Linked DNA regions of Homo sapiens: region 1 is linked to region 2. The links come from fine-mapping of genetic effects on plasma protein levels. A gene starts in region 2. The other region holds a variant in brackets. All regions are shown on one strand. Distances are from middle to middle.

The links. PIP is the posterior inclusion probability: the model's chance that the variant is causal. The UK Biobank Pharma Proteomics Project read protein levels with antibody pairs (Olink). The fine-mapping took linkage between variants from a reference panel, not from the people measured, so its PIPs are less certain.
Region 1: its variant is fine-mapped to the plasma level of the ANGPTL1 protein (UK Biobank, PIP above 0.99).

What each region holds. Positions count from the first base shown.
Region 1 is chr1:178,534,824-178,543,160 of GRCh38, reverse strand. C1orf220 (chromosome 1 putative open reading frame 220) reads right to left here and starts at 365. Exons shown (of 3, transcript NR_033186.1): 1 at 276-365. It overlaps LOC124904460 (a long non-coding RNA gene), which reads left to right and starts at 516. Exons shown (of 2, transcript XR_007066748.1): 1 at 516-1,127; 2 at 1,335-2,598. RefSeq lists silencers at 131-200, 231-560 and enhancers at 611-670, 5,573-6,772. The variant C/T (reference allele first, on the strand shown) is at 5,069.
Region 2 is chr1:178,869,453-178,877,734 of GRCh38, reverse strand. It overlaps ANGPTL1 (angiopoietin like 1), which reads left to right and starts at 6,658. Exons shown (of 6, transcript NM_004673.4): 1 at 6,658-6,994. RALGPS2 (Ral GEF with PH domain and SH3 binding motif 2) reads right to left here. Exons shown (of 20, transcript NM_152663.5): 9 at 100-237.

The sequences.
Region 1 (8,337 bases), 330 kb after region 2:
CGGGAGAAGAGGAGGCTGGAGAGCGCCGCCCAGTGCCTGCAGGCCGGGCGCTCCACGCCTCCCCTCCCTCCTGCACACCCCATTCCCCTCCGGTTGCCCCGCCTGGGAAGCCCCCTCCCCACACCTCCCGGCCCAGCATCTGCACGAGAGCCGCGAGCCCTGGCCCAGAGCTCTGGGTGGGCCTCTCACCCCAGACGGCGGCCGCAGCCCGTCCCTGATCACCGGCCGCCTGAGCCCTCCGTTCGCTCGGCGCGAGCGCCGCCACCCGTCCTTACCCCCATCCAGTCCGAGGCCAGCCCCGTAGGCTCCGAGCCTGCTCCGTGAAAAGCCTTTTCCCCAGGAGGAGAGTTACTGTAAAGCAAGAGGAAGCCGAGAAGAGGCGGTGGCTGCAGCGCGCGGGGCCCGGCGGGGGCGCGGGGGCGTCGGGGTACTGACTGGGCAGCGCGGTTTCCCCTCATCCCGGGACACGGTGCGGCGCTAGCGCCACCCAGCGGGCGCGGTGGGAATTGCGCTCCCTTCCTGCGCTGGGGCTCTGGACACACAGGCGACCAAGAATGACGCCTGCAGCCGGATAAACGCTCGGGGCAAGGCCGCTATCATCCCTCTGCCGGGAGTGAGTCAAGTCTCAGCAAAAGAAGAAGCCACTTTGGCCAAAATTCCAAGAGTGCTGATGAAGACGGTGACATCTGACATTTCAATGGCACTTTCCATTTCCCCCGGGGTGCGCATTCCGGGCCAGTGGAGCGCTGCGTCGCCTGTGCAGGACCTGGAGGTCTGCAGGACTGTGACCAGTCGGAGTCTCGGAGTCGTGGGTTAAACATTAGTCGGGAGCACTCGTTCATTCCCTGAGCTCCCCTTGCCCTTCACCCTTCGGTCCCGGAAGCCGGAAGGGAGACTGCCCCGCCCCTTGCCTGCCGCCCAGTGGCTCTCCCGGGGCCCTCTTGGCCCCTCTCTCCCAGCCCTCCATACAGTGAAGGGTTGTTTCCGCTGGTGACTTCCACCTGTGGGAGCAGAGAAAGGAAGCGGGGCAGAGGAGAAGGGGAAGGTGTCAGGCGATTCCCCTCCTTGCGCTGCAAGCCGGGTGGGAATAGAACACCTGCAGCCCTCCCCGGCGCCCTGCGAATGAGGTGGGAGTGGGAACGCCATCAGGGCAGAGCCCCTCCAGCTGGCTGGGGTCTGCACCTCCTCGCCAGCCCGGCCACCTCAAAACGGTGCTTGCCTCCCTGCGGGGGTGTAGAAGCCTCTTGGAGCAGCACTTGTAGAAAATCAAGTCCCTGGAAAGAAGCAAAATTAATCCGTTTGTTTCTCTATTTATTTTTGCTTCCCCACACCAGGTATTCACTTCATCCAAGGCTGCCCAATGTCACCTTCCACCCAGAGGAATCTCCCCTCTCCACCCCAGGCCAACAGCCTCTGCCTTCAGCTGTGGCCTCCACTCTGGCATTACTCTGGGCAGAGGGCTCAGGAGGGCTCAAGGAGGACCAGTGACATTCAGAGTGGCCAGAGTAAAGGGAGGGAGGGGGAGTGGTGGGAGAGGCGTGCAGAAGGCACAGGTGAGGTGGCGGAGGGGGGCAGGTGGTGGGGGGAGCGGGCTGGGGTGGGATGGGCCTGTCAGCATAGCAAGGGCTGTGATGGGCTTGAGTCTGACAGGGGGCAATGACCTGACCTACGGTTTTGTAAGATCACTCTGGCTGCCACCTGGAGAGCTGGTGTGGGGATGATGGCCATGGTAGACACAAGGGGAGCAGTTAGGAGACCACCACAAGTGACCATGCGGCCCAGGCGAGTAGGGTAGCAACAGAGATGGGGAGAGGAGGTCAGATTTGTGATCTGTATCTGAAGGTGGAATGGACAGGAATTGCTGATGAGCTTGGGTGTGGTGCATGAGGGAAAGAGAGAAATAAGCATCATTCTTAGGATTTGTCCTGAGCAACTGGAAGAAAAAGAATGACAGTGGCTAATACGGTTAGCCAGGCGCTCCTCTAAACCCTTCACATAGTTTAACCTGTCTAGATTTCATAACACTCCTATGAATTAGGAATTAGTTCTTCCCACATTTTACAGAAGAGGCAATCGAGGCCCAGAGAGTTGAATCAGTTTGCATAAAGTCCCACCATTAGCAAATGGAAAAGCTGGAATTTGGACCCAGCACTTCACCACTGCACACTTCCCCGGCTTTACAGAAAGAGAAATGCCGTGAACTGAGCTAGATGAGCCCGGGGGAGGAATGGGGTTTTTCCGTGGGGGTGTGAATCAAGAGTTCTAGTTGGAATGAATTCAGGCTGAGGTGCCTTTTAAACATCCAAGTAGAGATATTTAGCTCAGCAGATGGATGTATGACTCAGGCCCTGGGTGGCAAGGAGGAGCATCTGGGGCTGGCGTGTTAAGCATGGAGAGGAGACAGGAGAAGAGGGCAGAAGGCTGGGAAGTGGGATTAAATGCTGCATGTGAACGGATGAGGACAGAAATGGATACTTTAGAGCATCCTGTCAAGCCTTGGGGTGTCGGGTGATGAGTGTGTTTAGGAAATATTATTCTAGAGCAGTGCTTGTTTTTGTTTGAGGATTCAATAAAGGCTGTCACCTTGTTCCAGAAAAAGTACATGAACACACACGCAACATTTTGCATACAATTTCAGGGTGTCCGTGGGTCCCCAGAGGACATGCATGGGCCATTCTATTTCTATCAAACCTTACTTCATCCACCAGCCACAATCAAATTTCACTGTATCTCTCAAGTCCTGACCAGACCTCTGATGCAGTCACCCCACCCTCTCTGTCTGCATGAGATAGGAGCTGCACTCCTCTGAATCGAGACGGTTTTGAATTGAGACGGTTTTGAATGTCTATGTAGAATGCAGCTCGCCCTGCAGGTATTGCCTGTGTACATGTCTCATTTGGAAATGGTTCCCCTGAGGAATGAGAGGATGAACCCACAGAGTCTTTTGCTCTCTTATTCACCTGGGAGGTGATGTTATTCATCTATTTCCTAGATTTATTTGTTTTTTTGGTGTTTTTTGTTTTTGTTTTCGTTTTGAGATGGACTCTTTCTCTGTCGCCCAGGCTGGAATGCAATGGCGTGATCTCAACTCACTGCAACCTCTGCCTCCCGGGTTCAAGCGATTCTCCTGCCTCAGCCTTCTGAGTAGCTGGGATTACAGGTGTGCACCACCACACCTGGCTAATTTTTGTATTTTTAGTGGAGACCGGGTTTCACCATGTTGGCCAGCCTGGTCTCGAACTCCTGACCTCAAGTGATCCACCCTCCTCAGCCCCCTATAGTGCTGGGATTACAGGCATGAGCCACCATGCCTGGCCTTATTTCCTAGGTTTAAAGACAAAACTAGCTCGTTCTATTGTTTCCATCGACACAATTGCTTCCCCAATATATAATGGGCATTTGTTGCTATTGTTCTGTTTGTTTTGGCGGTCCAGCTTCCAGCATCCATTCTATTTGGGAGGATTCCCCGGTGACTCTTGGCAGGAATCCATCAGCCCCTCTGGAAATGGAAGGAATGGAAGGAACCAGGTGTCCCTCTTGTCCCCCACCCCTGCAGAGGTCACAGCCTTCCTATCCTGCCCAGCCCAGTGGGGCTTTGAAGGCTAGGGTGCAGGAACAGAAGAGAACTTATTTTTGGCCATGGCAGCTAGGCCAGGAGACCATCTGTGAGAGTAGCATCCTGTGTCCTGTGGCAGCAGTCCCGGCCACGGTATCCTCACCACAGCCTGGCCACAGCTTGGCCTCGCCTGCATCTCCTGCTGCCAGCCGCCTTGATACCTGCCCATTTTCCCCATGCGGTTCTCCAGCCTTCCGACTGATAAGTTCTGCACATATTTCCCCATGTCCATTGCCTGCACGAGTCAGCCAGGTCAGCTCTGTCGCTTCCACCAAGACCTCTCACTGCAGTGGCTGTGCTGAGCTTGCAGCTGACGTCTGCTCTACAGTGTCAGCACTTGGGATTCTTCTTCTGTTGGGGGTCCCTGAAGGTGGGATTCCTGGCCTGTCGAAGCATTGCTGTGTGACACATGCCAGATCCTTGCGGTTGCCTGTGAAGCTCGGAGCCCTCCATATCGAGGGAGGAAGGCTTTCCTTCCAGCAAAGTCTTGTGGCTTTCAGCGAGAGCGACTATGCAGCAGCCAGACCAACTACAGAGGTCACAACAACAACCCCTGTCCCGATGACAATCCTGTGATTTTCCTGGCTCAAAATGAAGTTTGACAAGTCTTGTTTTATACTCTTGTCATCACTGGGATTTCTTCTGACTTTACAAGACCAACAGGAATTGGAGTCAGACTCACAGGGGAGCCTGAGAGCCTCTCTATCCCACACCGCTGTGGGAGCCACGCCCAGGTGGGGCCAGGGCTGCAGAGGGGGAAGCTGGGAATGGCTGGGCAAGGATAGAGGCAGCTCAGCTTCCCCTAAGCCTGGGGTGGCCTGAGGGGCCCCCTGCACTATGCTGGAACGTACCTTCCTTTCCAAGGAAGGAAAACAGCAGCTTCTGACTCATGACTGTGTCCTCCTGCAGACAAGTACACAGCTCATCCCCTCAGAGTGTCTGAGTGCTGAGCTCACATCTCATGGTGGGGTGTTGCGGCCATGTCGCTGCCCCATCCCACGGGCATGGTGAGGATTCTGTTACTGCACACTCTTTAGGGTCCTTTATAGTTAATAAAATATTGAACCACTTCCATACTGGTTGGTAAACAGCTGCTGCCCTGAGCTGCCCCCACCTCCGACCCAGTGGCCACCTGCCCATCATTCTCCTGGTCCTTTCCCAGGACTGGCCAGGTGTCCCCACAACCTAGCAGCTAAGGGTCCTACCTGGCACAGATTCTGGTGGGTCAGGGCCCATGGTTAAGTATTTGGGGGTATCACCCCACCCACGAGTGTTCTCAGCACGCACTCACTCCTGCCTCTTCTCTGGTCCCCACACACTCAGCCACCCTGTCCCACCTCTTCTCACCACCAAATTAATATGCTCATCCTTCTCACCTCATCCTAGCCCCACCTCCTTCAAGAATCAGTCCTGAGTCCATAGCCCCTGCATCTCCCCCTCACACCCAGAGCA[C/T]TCCGCCTCCTACAGATAGCGCTTCCCAAATACGTCTCTCTCAAAGCTCTTTATGAGTCTTCAATATTTCCTTGGCCGGCTGGCCGATTGATTGGTTACAGAGCCTTGCCTTCTCATTTTCTGGCAGCAGATAAGTGAGGCCGGGACCTCTGGGGCCAGAGGCAGAGAGGCAGAGGTCCCAGGCCACACCTGAAAAGGCCGCCTGAGAAGGGAAGTTTCTGAAAGAGGCCAAGCAAGAGGGACCCCAATGCTGGGGCACTGTGAGCAGTGCTGAGCTGGTCAGTGGTCAGAACAGGTAAACTGGTGGGGCTCAGGCAAAGAGAAGGTCAAAGTGCAAGTCACACCTGGAGCAGGCGGGCATGACGCAAGGCCAGCTCAGCCACAAACCCCGTGTTGGGGGCAGGTGCCTTCCCTCTGGATCAAGATGTCCTGGAAGTGATTGGCTCCTGTTGGACAGGCAAAAGGTTAAGCAACACTCATCCTAGCTTCGAGCTGTCCCTCCCACCGACCTGAGTGGCAAGGAAGTTGCAGGGAAGGGGGCCTTGCTCTGTGCCACAGCTAATACCTGAGAATAGAATTTGGGAAACTTGAATCACAGTTTCCCATAACGTGTCGCGATTGCTTAGAAACTACGTGTCTCCCCTCCCCACAGTCGTCGGGGATCAGTGGCTCCTGACGCGTTTGCTTTAAATCTCTCTGTTCCCTGCCAATTAGCCAGTTTGACTTTCTGCTGTGGCAGGGATGAAAGTCACACTATTCAGCGCTAGACACGGATGCTGGGGGAGGAATCTCATTGCTGTGGAGATGGAATCTGGGCTTGGCACTGCCTGTTCAGCTGCTGAGTGTTACTTTGGGTTGACTCACAGCCCAGCATGAAGCAGGAGGCCAATCTTCGTGCACTCCACAACTCTTCCCTCCCCAGCTTTATCCAGACTGTGTCTTCTGCTGACCAGCTGTTTACGCTTGTACTTGATATGCGCTTGCCAAAGCCTGCAGCATAGAAGCCCACAGCTCAGTCCAAAGCAGCCAACCTTCGGCCTACTAGGATCTTAGCCACACCCCAGAGTCCCAGAGAGAAGTGACTCAGGTTGGACACAGTGGCTCCAAATGACCTCAGGTGACTCACAGCAAACAGATTAAAGGTGACACCCAGTGTCTCACCTATCAACTCAATTTGTCATTGAGTTGGCAGCCATGGCTGCCACCATTTCCCAGCTCGTTCACCCAGCTGTTTTTAAATATGGGCACACCAGCTTAAATCCCAATCTTGCCTGTCCTAACACCACAAGTCTCAACTCTGGCTGCAGGTTAGAATCACCCGAGGAGCATTTGAAACCACTGAAACCCCAGGCCTCCCTCCTGCAGAGATCTCAATCTAATTGGTCCAGGATGGGCCTGGGCATCTGTATGTTTTCAGAGCTCCTCAGGTGGGATGTTTGTTTGTTTGTTTGTTTGTTTGTTTGTTTTGTAGAGATGGAGTTTCCCCATCTTGCCCAGGCTGGTCTCAAACTCCTGAGTTGAAGCGATCCACCCGCCTCGGCCTCCCAAGGTGCTGGGATCACAGGTGTGCGCCACTGTGCCCAGCCCCCAGGTGGTTTTAATGTTCAATGGTCCTGAGAACCAGGGATCTGCCATCCAATTCTGTGAGGAAGGAGGATGCCAGACAGATATGCTATTTTCATATCCAATTCAGTCACCAGCACGTCTGCAGCCTGGCTCATGCCTTCAGTAGAGGACCTTCTGGTGTGAACACTTGCTCATTTCTGACCCAGAATCTTCCATAAATTTTTCTGCATCCAACTCTTTCTCCTTGGGTTTTAGTAATCTGTAAGTTTCTGCTTAATTTTCTGGATTAGGAGTTGAGAGTCCCAGCTTGTGAAACACACATTGCCAAAAAACCTAGTTATGGAAAAACTGGCTGAGATGAGAAAGATCTTGTTCTTACATAATTATGGATTCTCAATCTGTTCCATTTTGTTTATATTTGTTTCTCTGGAGAAATACTTTGTTATACATCATATATATTTTTTGATCTATATATATCTTTGTTTTAGCTTTATTAACTTTGGAGACTCGAACATACACAAAAGTAGACAGGATAGTATCATGAACTACTACAAACCTACCCACTCTCCTGCCCCAGCAATGGCTTAACCCAGCCCCATCCCCACACCCATCAGTTCACTCCATCTTCTATTATTTTCAGTCAAATACCAGATATCATACTATTTTATCTGTGAATGTTTTAGCAGATCACTCGAAAAGAACTTCTTGGGTATCATAACCACCATTCTACTGCACAGCAAAACTAGCAATAATTCCTAGAATTTAAATTTCCCAATTGTCTTAAAACTGTCCTGTGTGAATTATTAAAAAGAATTTGAGCCAGGCACAGTGGCTCATGCCTGTAATCCCAGCACTTTGTGAGGCCAAGGCAGGTGGATCACCTGAGGCCAGGAGTTCGAGACCAGCCTGGCCAACAGGGTGAAACCCCATCTCTACTAAAAATACAAAAATTAGCCGAGCGTGGTGGTAAGTGCCTCTAATCCCAGTTACTTGGGAGGCTGAGGCAGGAGAATCACTTGAATGCGGAAGGCAGAGGTTGCAGTAAGCTGAGATGGCGCCATTGCACTCCAGCCTGGGCAACAAGAGTGAAACTCTGTCTAAAAAAAAAAAAAGAATTTGAATCAGGGTACAAATGAGATGCAGATGTTGAAACTGGCTGATATAACTTTTTAGTCTGTTTTAGTCTATAGATTACCCCTCCTTTTTTTTTTTTTTTTTTTTTTTTGAGATGGAGTCTGGCATTGTTGCCCAGGCTGGAGTGCAGTGGCTTGATCTCGGCTCACTGCAGCCTCCACCTCCCGGTTTCCAGTGATTCTCCTGCCTCAGCCTCCCAAGTAACTAGAATTACAGGTGCTCACCACCATGCCTGGCTAATTTTTGTATTTTTAGTAGAGACGGGGTTTCACCCTGTTGGCCAGGCTGGTCTCGAACTCCTAACCTCAGGTGATCCACCCACCTCGGCCTCCCAAAGTTCTAGGATTACAGGCGTGAGCCACCACGCCCGGCCTCCATGTTCCATTTTTGAGGAACTGCCAAACTGTTTTCCAAAGCAGCATCACCATTTGACATATTCAGTTTGATGAATTTTTACACATAGTACACACCCATATCCCCACCACGAGATCAGGAATAGGGCATCAGCACTCTAGAATCCTCCCTGTCATCCTTGCACTCTAAAGGTAACCCTATTTTGACTTCTGTCA
Region 2 (8,282 bases):
GATGTCCCCTGCTGTGTGAAAAGTGATCATCAGTGTGTGTAAATAAATCACTGGATTACAGCAATCTTAATGGCTTGGCATTATCCCCTAGAAACTTACCATATTCACAAGACTGCTGTAAATCAGAAATTATTCGAAGGATATTATTCATTAAATTTGATCTTTGCTCATTTTCTAGAATGCTGCCAGTTGATGGGTATGCTGAATCGATGTATGTTAAATCTGACAAATAGATACCTGAAATACAATTAGATAAATGAACGTTTTCTTAGTTGTAGGTTGGGAGACTATGACAAAGAAAAGGGGGGAAGGGGTTGTTTATAGATATATTCCACTGTACGCTACATTTAAAATATATTGCTATTAATACACTGAAGCCTGGGTAACATATGGTTACTGGGGCCTAGCTTTCCATACAGTTGGGGTCAGACATATACCAATTTTTTGTAATAATATGCTATTTTGTAAATGTCTTCTTGTGATTTCATTTTCAAGTATAGTTTGAGGCTAGAGTTAGAAACTCCAGCACATATGGGAATTAATGGAAAGGAGCTGAGTTCTTCAATTGGCTCTGCCTCTGACTAGTTTCATAATGGAGAGTTATTTTAAACTGAGAACCTCAGACTTAAAACCTATGCAAGTATCCATTTTCCAAGGTGTGTTACAACTTGAAGATATTAATTTAGCCAGCAGCCCAGCCACTGACTGACATAGGGAAATTATTTAATATTTGTTTTTACTCTCTTGCCTTGAGTTGATAGCTATCATTTGAGTCTTAACTACTTTGAAAATTATCTCAATCTGGTAGAAATGTTTTACATTTTAAAGATCAACAAATAAATTTCTGAAATGGTTCATGTGACTACAAATTGAAGTTAACTATTTCTTACCCTCCATGCTTTTTGTACCAACAAAAATAACACATCCTCTAAAATTTGGTTGTACTAGTCCTTAACATGAAAGGTCACTTATTTAAGTTTATTTCTGGAGAGTTCACAATGCACATGTGAAATGTATTAGACAACTATAGCTGGAGAGAAAAGAAAAACATACCTTCCTACTTTTACCCCATTACTTCATGTTCATGTACTCTCAGGGTAAATGCAACCAAAATGACATACCCACTGCCTTCTAAATAAACCCTGTTTTTACTCAGCTTTTTCTTATACCTAAAATGTTTTCTGGACTTATCTCTGCCTATCCAAATCTTATATTTTGCTTATCTAATTCGGTGTCAATATTCTCTAGTTTTCTCACAGATTCCAAGAAAGGAATTCAGACACTGTCTAGTCTAATCCTCTCCTTTTATAGATGAAGAACCTGAAATACATAGATAGTAAAGGGACCTGTCTAATGCCATGCAACCTGTTAGTGACAGCTGGATCTCAGACGTTTCACTTATAGCCCAATTTAAAAAAAAATTACTTATATTCTATTAAAAAATCATACATTATGTGTGCTTACTATTCACTTAATGACTTTTATGACTTCAAAATCTCATTACTTATTTTTTTTACATTTATATCTTATCTATTCAAGACTGCAAACTCATTTAAGGCAGTTGCTCTATCTTGCACTCCAAGAGAAAGAAAATCTTGTGCAATGTTTTGACAATAGGTGCTTAACATAAAAGGTTGGCATGGCAATCTTTTTACTCATCCTAGTATCATTCATTTTCCACTCAGTAAATCTTTACAGTATTCTTTAAGTCACCTATCATACTTTTTTTTCTTTAGATAACCTCAACTTTATTTCCCTATGACTCCAAATGAATCTTGAGGTTCCAAATGAAGCTGAGGTTCTTCCCACTTTCCCCAATCTTGGAGGAAGAATCATCTCTCTCTTCTTCCGAAATCTCAACTGTAATTTTGAATGCAATCGTTGCTGCCTCCTTCCAGACAACCACTGTTGCCTCTACTATCATTCACCCCTACTGGCTCCTTCCCCAGAGCCAGTATACATATTTTTTTTTAAACCATTTTTTTTTTCAAGAAAGAGTCTTGCTCTGTCACAGGCTGGAATGCAGTGGTGCGATCTCGGCTCACTGCCACCTCTGCCTTCTGGGTTCAAGTGATTCTTGTGCCTCAGCCACCCGAATAGCTGAGATGACAGGCATGCGCAACCACGCCTGGGTAGTTCTTGCATTTTTAGTAGAGATGGGGTTTCACCATGTTGGCCAGGCTGGTCTCGAACTCCTGGTCTCAAGTGATCCACCCGCCTCAGCCTCCCAAAGTGCTAGGATTACAGGCATGAGCCACTGCACCTGGCCCAATATACATGTTTAAATCTCCCCTACTTATAAAACAAAATCTAAGCAACTCTTCCTTCAAATCTGATCCCACGCCTCAAGATAACATCCTTGTCCTCCCTTCAACAAACACCTTGGAAGAGAAACATACAATAGTACACTTCTTTTATTCTTCGTTCTATTTTTAATGTAATATTTGATACACATGTGTCAGGAAAATTGTGAAAAACTTTGAGATGGGAAAAAAGATTACTGGGTATCCTGTCTCCAGTGCACCCATTTGGTCCTTCTGAGCTATTTTACAACTCTGCACAGCTGTTGAAAACTGGTAATACAAATTATTGTCCATAAACATGCCAAAGAATTATGTCCAGTGGGATCTAATCAGTGATGACCAATTTTGCAACTATTTGTAAATTTACTTCAGCGTTCCTGATTGCATATATGTGTGTTACTTTGAATTCTCCCTTGACACATTTTTGATTCCCTTATAAATTTAATAATTTAAATGAAAATTCTGACACATATTCATTTCATATTTGTGTGAGAATCGTGATTTCACAAAAATTATTGCCGGGAACGGTGGCTCATGCCTGTAATCTCAGCACTTCGGGAGGCTGAGGCGGGCAGACTGCTTAGGAGTTTGAGACCAGTCTGGGCAACATGGTGAGACTCCTGCCCTAAGAAAAAATTATCAACACATGTGACACTTGTTGTTATCAAACAACATAATAAACATTTGTGAAAGACCAGTCAACTTATGACTACAACATCCCTAAGGAGAGCTAAAAGATTCCTCAAGGAAATGGCACGGGGATGTTGGCATATGTACATCAATAACAGCAATAGAAGATATAAAAAAGTAGCACAGAAAAGTTTAAACAGGAGTTTCATAAGAATTCTGTGCAAAAAAATGTCATTCCTTGCTGATGGGATCAGAGAAAGCTTCAAGGAAGAAGTGGGATTTGAGCGGGGTACTAATGTGCCAGTTCTTGCCATTCTTCCATCTTATTAAACTCAGATGACAACTCGCCTGTAGTCACTCGCTATACTGTGCTGTCCAATATAACCACTTGCCACATGTGACTACTGTTTCGTGGGTCTATTCTGAATTGAGGTGTATTTGAATATAAAATAGACAAGATTTTGAAGAGTTAACATGAAAAATTAATGTAAAATATCTATTAACTTTTTTATTGGTTACATGTTAATATTTTAATATGTTGGGGTAAACTACTTTAAAAAAGAACTACGACATCATCAATACTGTTGCATCTATCTGTATGTTCCTTCTCTACTTCATCTCCTTGCTTCCTGTCCAGAAGTAACCATTACCTTGAACTTTAAGATCATTCCCTTATTTTTTCCCCGACATTTGTCTGTATTCCTACTTTTGCCTATTTTTGAGCTTTAAAAATCATATTTTATTGTATGTGTGGATTAAATAATAGTATTTGTAATGTTAGAAAAGTGTCTAGTATGGGAGGCTGAGGCAGGAGAATGGCGAGAACCCAGGAGGCGGAGCTTGTAGTGAGCCGAGATCGTACCACTGCACTCCCGCTTGGGTGACAGAGCAAGACTCCGTCTCAAAAAAAAAGTGTCTAGTACATACCAAGTGATTTATAAGCATTTATTAAATAAAATTTAAAAATATGGTCTTCTGTGGTTGCTTCGTCTATTTTGTTTCTAAGACTTGTCCACGCTGTTAAATGCTGCTGTAATTCCTTATAATGAGAACAAGCTAATGTGTGACAATTGTAACTCATCCATTTTATTTGATAGACTTTTGAGTTACTCCCATCCCACCCCCAACCATGTTGCTATAGACATTCTTATACACATCTCCCAGTACACATGTACAAAATTTCTTCAGGATATACAAACATGCCTAGGAGCAAAACTGCCAAGTGCTAAAGTATATTAATATTCAACTTTACAAGATGGTGTCACATTATTTTTCAAAGCTGTATCAATTCATACTCCCACTCACGGTATATAAGCTTCTGTTGATCCACATTTGTGCTAACAATTGGTATTATCCATCTCAATTTTGCCAATCTTCTGAGTATAAAATGGTATCTCTCTGTGTCTTAATTTTTATTTCCTTGATTAGTAATAAGGTTAAACGTATATATTTCTATGTAATAAATGTTTCTGTTCATTTTTTCTTTTGGGTTGTCTTTTTCTTATGGATTTCTAATTTCTTAATGTATTGTGGACACTAATTTGTCAGTTAAATTTTATCTAGTCACCCTTCAACACACTAAATAATCTGAAATCTGTATGTATCACTTATTTTGGCAATGGCATTAATAACTTTCTCATTCTAAGTCTTAAAACATCTCTCTTGGTCTCCCCTCCCTATGTAATGTCTCTGCAGTATTGTAACCATTCTCGTCTAGTTCTCAGGTTTTCCCTACCTTGAACTTTCGTATCTTCCCCCTAAGCCCCCACCATTCTTCTTTTTCCTCATGTTTCTTGTAAGCTGGTTTCCTGGAAATTGGTATCATGGTCTGTCATTAACCTTCCTTTACATTCTACATGTACTTTCTCTAGTATCTTAGTTCCATAGCTTTAGCTACTACCTAATTGCTGGTGACTTTCAAATCTCTCCATATAACTGAGCTCCTGACTTTCATTTTCAATTTAACATATCTAACCATAATCTGTCCCTAAATACCTGTCATTCCAATTTCCTACCCTGGCTAGTGATATTACTAAGTGCTCAAGTTAGAAAGCTCCAAACTGCTGAAAGTTTAAAAGCTCAGAAAGAATTTATTATCTCTTATTTTTCCCAGATTTAAGCCATTAGTGACTACAACATAATTACTGAATGCTCAAGAAACGATACATAATACAAATCAGAGGCCAGAAGCTGGCAGCACATCTGTCCCAATGTTTTTTAAAATCAGGAAGTATTACAGGAAAAATCTAAATGGCTCTTTTTTCCTGAATAATGGGAAGATCTGGCAACACTGTCTCATAATCCTTCATGGCCACAAGCACAGCTGAGAAGGTGCAGGCAGATCCCTTTAAATTAACCAAAAGGATGCCAACTTGCCATAAACTTCATTTCCCTCCAGTATCTTACTACTGATTTACTTCACTGATTTATATTACCTGCTCCATTCTTCTTGTGAGCATTTGCCTTTCTAGGCCCTTGTGTTTGCAACCTCTGGTATACCTATATATGGCATAGGAATTCAAATAAATGATTCTGTGAAAGAGGTAGAAAATAAGCTCAGACTTTAAATAAAGGATGTGGATCAACAGTGTGGCCTAACAGAAAGAGAAACACAGCACAAGCTACAGCAATAAGGAAGGGAAAGCACAGGTATGTAGAGAAAGCCCAAAAGTTTTATCTAGAAGCAGCTTACAGCAACTAGGTAATCAATGACAGAGAGTGTGGCATAATGCTTTGGCATTAGATTCAAATCCCAGTTCCACTACTTAGTACTTAAGTGCTAAGCTAAGTTACTTAAGCCTAAGTTTGTGTTTCTTCAGCTACTGAGTTATTTAACATTTCTTCAATTAATGAAATACAATAGTATAGTTGTACTCAACACTTATTCATTTCTTCCACCACCTTATTTCATAGCAGAAGAACCTTGCCAGAGGCAGGTAAAGTGATTTGTCTAAGTTCACATAGCTGGCATAGAGTCAGAGCTTCCTTGTTTTTTACTCAGTTCAGGGTTATGTTTGTTTTTAAACCACACCACATCAATTAATAACAAGAATGACCTTTTACAGAGAGGAGAGGTCATTTTGTAGAATAGGAGGATATGACATTATGTAACACCAGAATGTAATATTTAAAAGTCTTAAGCATCTGAAAGAATTTCACTTATGTTTGGTAATTATATATAAAGGCTGTTTTATCTTAAGACACATTACACAGTAAGACATAACATACTACAACAACATCAAGTTTCTTGTAAGTTTAAAACCTTCATTAGCAACTTAGTAAAATGTTTACAAATTCTTCTAGGCTATAAAGAGTATTTATTACATTATTTAGGTGGCTGCCTCCTGACAAAGTCTAGCTCTTGTTCTTTGTTAACAAAAACCAAACTCATCAGCCTGCAACTACTTCTAAGTGAAGTGGAGCACTATTTTTTTTTTCGGTATTCAACTTAAAAGATCTCTGGCCAGCAGACTAAAATGTTTGTTTTATAATTGCCCGCTGAACTATGATAGTTTGTTTCCAGATGGTGCCCTTCCTTCAACCTGCACACAATCTCTCCTTGTTCAAAACTATTCAACCTCCTGCTGATCCCACCCCCCTATTTAAGGCTACAAAGAGGAAATCCTAAGGAGATTCCCGCCCCCAGTCTCCAGCAATTTTTGGTGATGTAATATGTGGGCTGAACTTGAGTCTACTGAGAAAGAGGGAATCACTATTCAGGGGTACTGTATATACAATCTGGGTCAGCTGCAGCTGGTTACTGCATTTCTCCATGTGGCAGACAGAGCAAAGCCACAACGCTTTCTCTGCTGGATTAAAGACGGCCCACAGACCAGAACTTCCACTATACTACTTAAAATTACATAGGTGGCTTGTCAAATTCAATTGATTAGTATTGTAAAAGGAAAAAGAAGTTCCTTCTTACAGCTTGGATTCAACGGTCCAAAACAAAAATGCAGCTGCCATTAAAGTCACAGATGAACAAACTTCTACACTGATTTTTAAAATCAAGAATAAGGGCAGCAAGTTTCTGGATTCACTGAATCAACAGACACAAAAAGGTATTTAATATTTCTTTTATTTAAAAATATTATGTATAGCAAATGCATAACTATTTTATATTTGTAGTAGAAATTTCAGAATCTTTTACTAAACAAAGACCTTTGGAATATACTACAGTTTATCTCATCTGAAAAAGGTTTTATCTTGCAACTTGACATAAAAACATTAAGTACTGTGCAATGGTTAATGCATTATTTGAGGTTCAATTTAATGATGTTTAGTGTATATGATTACAGACTGATACATGCATGCCATGCTGGGTTTCTGAAAACAAGTGCTTTAGTGACAGTAGAAAGAAATTTTAACAAGTAACAGATTAAATGTATAAGGCTTACAGCACAATGATTAAAAACAAAGGAATACAAACTAAATAGTCGTGAACACAATTAGTTTCTCTTCCTGCAGCCACAGTGTGTGTGCTGAAGATATACATAAACTGTTGGATTTCTCAGTGTAGTCATAAAACAAAGCTAAGATACAAAAATAGTTGAAAGTCTTTGCAACAAAATCTCAATTACAGTATAACCAAATATTAAGCAGAAATTCTTGTACAGATTTAAGATTAATCTATGGCATTTCTTGTTCCAACTCAAAATTTTAAATAGCTTTCCAGGCTTACATGTAATAGTAATTTAATTTGGATGACAGAAATTAAACTTGCTACAAATGGAATCACTTGGAAAAGCTAAGTTATTGATATACACACAAAAGCATTATGTAAGTGGTATTAACAATAGAAAATAAGAACCCAGAAGATGTAATTAAATTCATGACTAAAAGGCCAAAAATATGTAATATTTTAGGTAGAAATAATTTTGTTAAGCACACATAAGAGGTTTCCTTCAATATTCTATCTGGGAGCTTTTTTTACATGCATTATAAAAACTATTAAAGATAAAATTACTCGTTACCAATAGTATGCCTTAAACCAAAGACACTTAAGTTTGTTAGATTTGGGGCTCCTTTAGCCTTGTAAAAATTAAAGATATTAATGGTTAAGAATCTTGAACAAGCAAATAATGGTAAAGCTAAAATTTTTTCCAACTTTGCTTTTGTGTCCTTTCCTTAAAGATTTAAAACTGTAAATGCTGGCAGGATTTCTGTTAAACACATATTTTACAAGAAATTCTAACAAAATTTCCAAGCAACAGTGGATCTGAAATACTGTCATCTCTCTTTTTTGTTGTTGCATGCTATGGGAAGTGCAGGACTTCATTAAGCCTCAGTTCTTACTGACGCTGTCTTAAGGCAGGCATTTAATCTGAACCCCAAATTACACAGATAACT